Homo sapiens: one gene and its partner. The protein of the gene in region 1 purifies or fractionates together with the protein of each later gene. This does not show direct contact. Each region holds a gene or a part of one and is shown on either strand. Other genes may lie near its edges. The genes, in order: RALGDS and KDR.

Region 1 (3,810 bases):
CAGAGCGGGAGGAGCAGGAACGGCCTAGTGAACAGCTGATGCAGAGAAAACGCTTTCCCCTGAGGGCAGGTGCCCAGGCAGCCGCTATGAGCTGACTGCTAGGAGGAGAAAAGAACACCACGTGCTTGGCTGTGTCCTCAAGGGACACTCCTGTCCCACCCCTAGCAGGCATGCTGATGTCCCTGGGCTCTGGGACCCAGTCGGCAGCTGTGCCTGTAAACACACTGTCTGGCCTTCTAACATTTGGGTCAGTGCAGTGAGGGTGGCATGGGGTCCCCGGTGAGCAGGGGCCCCCACACCCCAATGTCTCCAGGGACACAGCCCAGAGCCCTGAAGATGAGGATGGGAAACAGGGCCTGGTGGTGTCTGGTGAGTGTGTCACCTGATCAGCCTTCTCAGAGTGACAGGCCAGCAGGATGCCGTGTCCCTGGCTGACAGAAGGAGGAAGCCACAGGCCAAACCCAGACTCCCTCTGGGTAGAATAGTGAGGGTCTTGAGGAACCCTACGGGGCCTGCCCCAGCCCTGCCATCTCCCCGCTCAGGCCAACGGCACCTCCTCCCAGCATCAGCCTTCTGGTGCAGCTCCGGACTCAGACGCCTTTCCTTGGAAACCGTAGCTAGTGGCCCCCTGCCCCATGGATGGCTCCAGGAACTCACCGGCCCCTCCCAAGGAGACCTGGCTGAGGGCTGAAGCGGAGTGAGGAGAGGGCTCTAGCCTGCACCTCGGCCTGCTCCGCCCCTGGTCCTCCCCGGGCCTGTGTGTGGAAAGGCTCACGGCAGAGCCTCCGTGTGCGTGAGATTGTCCTGGGGGACCTCCCAAGCCCCTCTGAGCTGCTGCTCAGGTCCCAGTCACCAGAGGTCACCCCGGGGTGCTTGCCACCCCCCTGCCAGCACCTCACAGTTCTGGCCCACCAGACAGCAGCTCCCTGTCTCTCGCTGGCTCTGCCCAGCCCCTGGCCCTCGGCCTTGGTGTGTCATCTGGGGAGGGCAGCACTACCTGTCACAGGCAACAGTGGGGGTCAAGAGAGAATGCACACAGCTCGGTGACCGGCACTGGGACCTGATGGCGTGGTACCGGACAACACCTGACATCATATCCCCCTGGGGCCGGCGACGGATGCTGGGCTGTAAAAACCTGAGGGAAACTTGTCTGAGGCCTGCCTAAGGCTCAGGGACCTAGCCGAGGGACACTGTAAAGAGAGGCTGAGTCACCCTGAAACCCAGTGGGTGGGAGCAGCTTTCTGACTTCAGCTTTCCGCTCCAATACAGAAGCCAAACGTAAAACGCATCACAGAAGGCTGCTCGCTCTCTACAGAGCCCAGGCTCCTGCGACAGTGCGGGGCCCACGCTGCTGTGCCCTTCTCCGTCCTACAGAGGTGGGGACCCATGCCCGAGGACAGGAGCCGGTGGGGCGTGTGCTGGCTGAGCCAGAGGTGAGAGCCCAGGACTTCTCAAGTCATGAGCTCGGACCATGAGCCCCATCAAGGGAGGTGGAACGCAAGGGCCTCGTGTCCGTGTCCGTGACCCTCCTGCCCTCGGGCCTGCCCTCCAGCTCCAGGTGGGTGGACCCAACCCTGATCCCCAGCGCACAGACAAAGCATCAAGATGACAGGAGGCCAGCCCGGGGTGTGGGTGGGCCACACTCCTGATCCTGGGCATGGCAGCCCACAGAGGCGGCCTCAGACCGGGACGACACGCGGTGCCTGCCCACCAGGATGCTCCCTGGCCTCAGAAAGTGGAGGCTGGGAACCAACCAGTGCTGAGCCCCGCAAAGGCCGGCCCATCTCTCCAGAAACCCTCCCTGCCGGCCTGTGCCCTGCTACTCACTGATGGGAAAATCGTGCCTCAAGCAGGAGGAGGGAGAACCAGACCTCCAGGTCAGCCGCAAGCCTTGGGCATCCAGGGTCCCTGTCCACGCCCAGCCCCTGACAGTCAGGTGAACACAGGGCCAGGCCCGGGAGGGGCGTGGCTGGTGGCAGCTGAGGAGGAAGGTGGGCTGGTCCCAAGGGGGTGCAGGGCAGCCCCAACTTTAACCAGCTACAGTGCCCAGCACATGCGGGCACTTCCTGGGTGCAAGGCCCTTTGGACACCCATCACGTTTAATCCTCCTAACGCCCTGCCTGATGGACAAGGAAACAGCCTGAGAGGAACTCGCCCAGGTCAGGAGCCAGGACGTGGCAGCCAGAACAGGGATTTGAACCCTGGCCTGTTGGGACCCACCCAGGCCTGGCGCTGCCTCTGCCATGGTCTCAGGCTTGGAGCAGAGTCCAGCCCCTTGTGGCACAGATGTGGAGGAGGGGCCAGAGACAGGAAGGATTTCCTCAGGTCACACAGCAAATTCGCAGGGGAGGGTGGCAGGGCCAGCTTTCTAGCACCTGCATCTCCGAGAGGTTTGTGGACGTGCCCTGGGCAAAAGGCCTACAAGACACCAGGCCAGGGAAGTGCCATGCTGAAGGTGCCAGGTGACGCACCCGAGGAGCCCAGGGCACTTGGAAGGGTCAGGCCGCTCCCCTGGCACCTAATCAGAAAACCTCATTGTGGCAGCTGCTACCTGTCCACTGTGCCAAGTGCTGTGCAGGCTGCTCCTCAGGTCTCTTGTCTAACTCGAGGGTCCTCACCAGAACCCTAACAGGAGAGCTGGCATCATGTCCATTTTACAGATGAGGAAACTGAGGCTCAGGAGCACGTCTACATCTGCTAGGGGGCTGAGCTGGCATCCCAGCATAGCTCTCTTCTCTCCAGAGCCCAGGCTCCCTGCCCCTCGGTTGAGATGGACAAAAGTCTCCAGGAATGACTACAGGGGAGGCTGCCAAAGCATGCAAGCTTCCCCATGGAGGAAAACGCCAAAACCCTCCAACGCAGGTGTCCTGCCCCGCCCGCCAAGCCACTGTTGGGCTGCCATCCCACTGCCTCCCCCGCCCGTGGGCAGCCAAGGTGTGCGGAACTGGGAGAATTGGGTCTGCTCAAAGCTCAGCTTGTCCTGCATGAGGCTGCATGCATCAGTGTCTGCCCCTTAACAATCAAATGGGGAACACTGCTCTGCTGTTGCTGTATATCTGGGAACACAGTGATTCTGGGCCTGCAAGGCTGGAAGTCCAACCCTGGGACTGGGTGGCCACAGCATGGTGGCACCACGCCATGGGAGCCATCTGGGCGGCCAACCAGCAGCTCTTGGGAACCAGTCCTTGACTGCCTGGGTGCAGCTTCCTGAAACCGCTCCACTGGCTCGTTCAGAGCCTGCCTGCAGAGGGCCAGTGATAAATCTCCCCACTCTTTTCTCATTGGCAACGCAGACAGGTCCTGGAAATGCCCAATTTCCAGGTTAAGAATCAGACCCCAGCTCTGGCAACGAGCAGCTTGATATCTCCCAGGGCCATTCCTGAGCCTCCCGGGAAACAGGCCAGCATGCCTGAGCATCCCCCGCCTGGAGAAGGAACAAAGACCCAGGACCAGCCAGCCTGGTCCCCCTCTTCTGGGGGACCCTCCCGAGTAGAGCAAGAGGGGAACCTGAGGGTCCTGGGGGCTGCCCCTTCAGAGTCACCCAGGAAGCTCTCCTGGAAGACCACAGTCTGTACACATGCATGCAGGGACACACACCCACACAGGGACAGGCCCTTTGCCTTGGGGTCTTCAGTGTCAAAGTGCTCATGAGCCCTGGGGATTAAACCGAAGACCTGCACACAGTGTGATCAAGAGATCAAACAGTGGGAAGACGCGGGAGGCTGAAGGGAGATGCTCCCTGTGAATACAGAGAAGCCCTCTTCACTCCAGCCCACCTGCAACTGCCCTCAGGCCTTGGGTCAGAATCCT
Region 2 (3,810 bases), on another chromosome or scaffold:
AAACCTAGACACTCTGACTTCTGAACCCAAACACGTAAACCACCTCATGTTAAAGGAAGGTGTAAATCTTTAGAGAATGCATTCCTGCCACCATCATCTGAGTTTTTCATTCTCTCTCCCTCTTCCTCCCTCCCTCCCTCTCCACTCCCTTTCCCTCTTCCCCTTTCTTCCTTCTCCCTTCTCTCACTTCCTTCTTTCTTCTCTCCCTTTTTCCTTTCTTTCTTTTTTGACTCCAAAGTCAAAACTATTTCCTTATTACTGTCAACCTAAAGCCTCAGATTATGCTTTGAAGACTTGACTTCTTTTTTATGTTTATTTCATATAGCAGAGAATTTGCTAAAGTGAATAAAATATTTAGTGGCTTCATGAACTGATGAAATGGGCTATTTGCTGTCCGTGTTTTGTTTTTATTTCCTGTTCATTTCCTCCTCCCATCCTACTTATACACTTTCCAGTTTCTCCTCTCCCCAGTCCCCTACACCTATGCTGCTTCTAAACAACCTTTTTGGAACCTGTTAACTTTTTTTTTGAGACGGAGTTTTGCTCTTGTCACCAGGCTGGAGTACAATGGTGCGATCTCGGCTATCTGCAACCTCCACCTCCTGGGTTCAAGTGATTCTCCTGCCTCAGCCTCCCAAGTAGCTGGGATTACAGGTGCCCACCACCATGCCTGGCTAATTTTTATATTTTTAGTAGAGACGGGTTTTCATCATGTTGGCCAGGCTGGTCTCGAACTCCTGACCTCAGGTGATCCATCCGCCTCGGCCTCCCAAAGTGCTGGGATTACAGATGCAAACCACGGCACCCAGCCTATCTTTAAAATATTCCCTGAAAAAAAATAATAAAGCCAAGTTCAGCGGCCTACAGAAGAGTATCAGGACACGTAGGGAAGCACCTTAATGTCATGGGAAAATATCCTGAAGTTTTAATATGCCGTACCAGAAGGGGGAACAAAGAATTACAACAGAGAAGCATTTCTCAAACTGTTTGGAGTGAGAGATTAATGAATTTGCTCAGGGGAAAAAAGGTGCTCTGGTCAAATAGGTTTGTTAAACCTTGAATACTCTATGTCTCTCCTCCTGGAGAATACCAATATACATTAGCATATAAAAGGTTCTGCGAAGTCCTGCAATAAAGAAACCTGTTACACATCTACACATCACCTTAGCACCTCTCACACTCACTTGACCATGGCACCCTTCTCCCCACTCCATTCCAAACACTTATTTGTACCTTTCAGTTTCAGAAAACAAAGTTCAAATTATCTTTACATCAAAAACTTACTATCTTTCCTTTACAGACTCAAAATCAGATCCTGAACTCCTGTCAAAAAGGAAAAAAGAAAAGCTCCCAACCAAGCCAACAGTGTCAACTTCAAAAGCCTTCAGAGTTGGAACGTGCCTGCACATCTCTGATACATCAACTACAACATCAAACTAGAAGCTTTGCACAAAATCTAAGGAGAAGGGTCTTACACATCTGTGTACCAGGTGGGCAATTCCATGAGAGGGGAACATGGTAGTATAACTTAGCTTGACAACTGTCCCTGTGGGCATTCTTATTTCACAACATTTAGCTATCGAGGGTATCACTACTTTAATCTTGCATTTGTCCACCACAAAGCTCATTTACACGGCCTCTTAAACAAACATGGCCAGAGCACATGGTCCTACGTTTCACTTCAGCTTCACCACGCCAGATGACTTTTGTACGCAGGCCCAGCCATGATATGAGTGAAGCAGCAGGAGGCAGAGGAACGGTGGTTTGGCTGATTTGGAAGACAATGTATCATAATAAATCTTGGGCAGAGAGGAAAATTGAATGGACTCACCATACACAACCAGAGAGACCACATGGCTCTGCTTCTCCTTTGAAATGGGATTGGTAAGGATGACAGTGTAATTTCCTGTGTCTCTTTCACTCACTTCCATAATCGTCAGTACATGCCCCGCTTTAATTGTGTGATTGGACTCAAGGGGTATTCCATTTTTATACCTATGAAAAAAAATTCTCAGGAATTAGTATAGTCAAAGGATTTGCTCTCACACGAAATGATGCTTTGCATTTATTTCCAGTAGTTACCATTTTATTTCTGGGGGTGGGTAACCAAGGTACTTCGCAGGGATTCTGACACGCTCCCCCACCGTGGCTTCCACCAGAGATTCCATGCCACTTCCAAAAGCAACAAAAGGTTTTTCTGGAAGAAAATAAAAAAAAAAAAAGGTCAACTTACTGTAAATGGTCATTTGATTTAGTTTTTCATTTCAAGTGAAACGTCAAAGACCTTGAGGGTCTGAGTAGCTGCAGTTCCAAGATTTCCTGTACTATCTTTCAGTGGGTCACTTTTCAGCTTCTCCCACACCTCCCGTGTTTCTCCCACACCTCCTGTGTTTGCATTTGCTTTTCTCTCCCCGCTAGTGCACTCCCACAAGCCTAGTGATTGCTCAAGTCTCAACTCAAACACTTGCTCCTCTGTGCAGCTTTCTCTAAGTCCCCCAGGGATGCTTGGGTGCTCCTTCTCCTCTGCTCCCATGACAGCCTCCACACACCTCTTCCACCATGAGGCCCCAGGACTCAGTCCTCAGACCTCCTCTTTATTTACACCTTCCTCTAGCCTCAGGTTTAAAGTATCATTCACGTACCTCCTAAATGTGTTATCTTCTGCCCTGACTCCTCTGGGTTCCGGGTTGATATGTTAAATATCTCCACTTGGATGTTTAACAGGCATCTCCAGATAAACATATCTAACACTGTTTCCCTAAATCTCACTGCCTTCTCGATCTTTGCCATCTCAGTAAATAACACCATCATTTACTCAGTTGCTCATGCTAACGCTCGAGTCATCTTCCACTCTTTTTCTCTTATACTCCACAACCAATGAATTGATCAGCGGACCCTGTTGACTCTACCTTCAAAATATATCCAGAAGCAGATCACCTCTCACTACCTCCACCTCAACTACCCTTGTCTAAGCCACCCCTCAACTCTCACTTGGATAACTGCAATTAGCCTCCCAACTGACCTCCTTATTTCTGCCCCTATTTCCCTGAAGTATTCTGGAAAACAAAAGTAATTCTATAAAAACATAAGCCAGAGCACATCTCTCTCTGTGTATTTTGACAAGTGCATCTTGGCAAGTGAAATAATTTAAATAAATTTAGGACACTTAGTGATTTCTATTTTGTTCATTCAGAAGAAATTTTCAAGTTCTTGCTAGGGATGCCACGTGACCTAGAGGTCAAGAGCATAGCTTTGTAGTCAGGAACTTGAGTTCCAATCTCAGCTTCAAAGATGAGATGAGCTAATAAAGTAAGTGCTCACTAAATCATACTTGTTATAGTTGTTGCCACTTTTATGATTACAACTCTAATAAATAGCATTATCTAAGGTATTTTTAAAATTTCACTGTATTGATGCATTCTCATAATATAAACTCCAAAATCCTTTCCAAGGCTTATAAGTAGGATGCCACACAAATTACCATGTAAACTCAGACATTTATGTAAATGAAAGAGAATAAACAAAAAATTAAGGTGATTTTCTCAAGGCCAGTTCAATTTAATTCCAGTTCAATTACAGTTGACCCTTAAATAACACAAACTTGAACTACATGAGTCCACTTATAAGCAGATTTTCTTCCACCTCTGCCACCCCTGAGACAGCAAAACCACCCCCTCCTCTTCCCCCTTTTCCTCAGCCTACTCAACGTGAAGACAAGGATGAAGACCTTTATGATGATCCACTTACACTTAATGAATAGTAAATATATTTTCTCTTCCTTACAATTTTCTTAATAACATTTTCTTTTCT

The links.
Region 2: the proteins of RALGDS (region 1) and KDR purify together in Homo sapiens (pull-down; one study listed by IntAct). This does not show direct contact.

The regions. Positions count from the first base shown.
Region 1 is NC_000009.12:133,114,626-133,118,435, forward strand, and holds part of RALGDS (ral guanine nucleotide dissociation stimulator), read right to left. Parts: intron 1-3,810. UniProt on the Homo sapiens protein: Functions as a guanine nucleotide exchange factor (GEF) activating either RalA or RalB GTPases and plays an important role in intracellular transport. Interacts and acts as an effector molecule for R-Ras, H-Ras, K-Ras, and Rap.
Region 2 is NC_000004.12:55,108,572-55,112,381, forward strand, and holds part of KDR (vascular endothelial growth factor receptor 2 precursor), read right to left. Parts: intron 2,198-3,810; coding exon 2,083-2,197; intron 1,996-2,082; coding exon 1,832-1,995; intron 1-1,831. UniProt on the Homo sapiens protein: Tyrosine-protein kinase that acts as a cell-surface receptor for VEGFA, VEGFC and VEGFD. Plays an essential role in the regulation of angiogenesis, vascular development, vascular permeability, and embryonic hematopoiesis.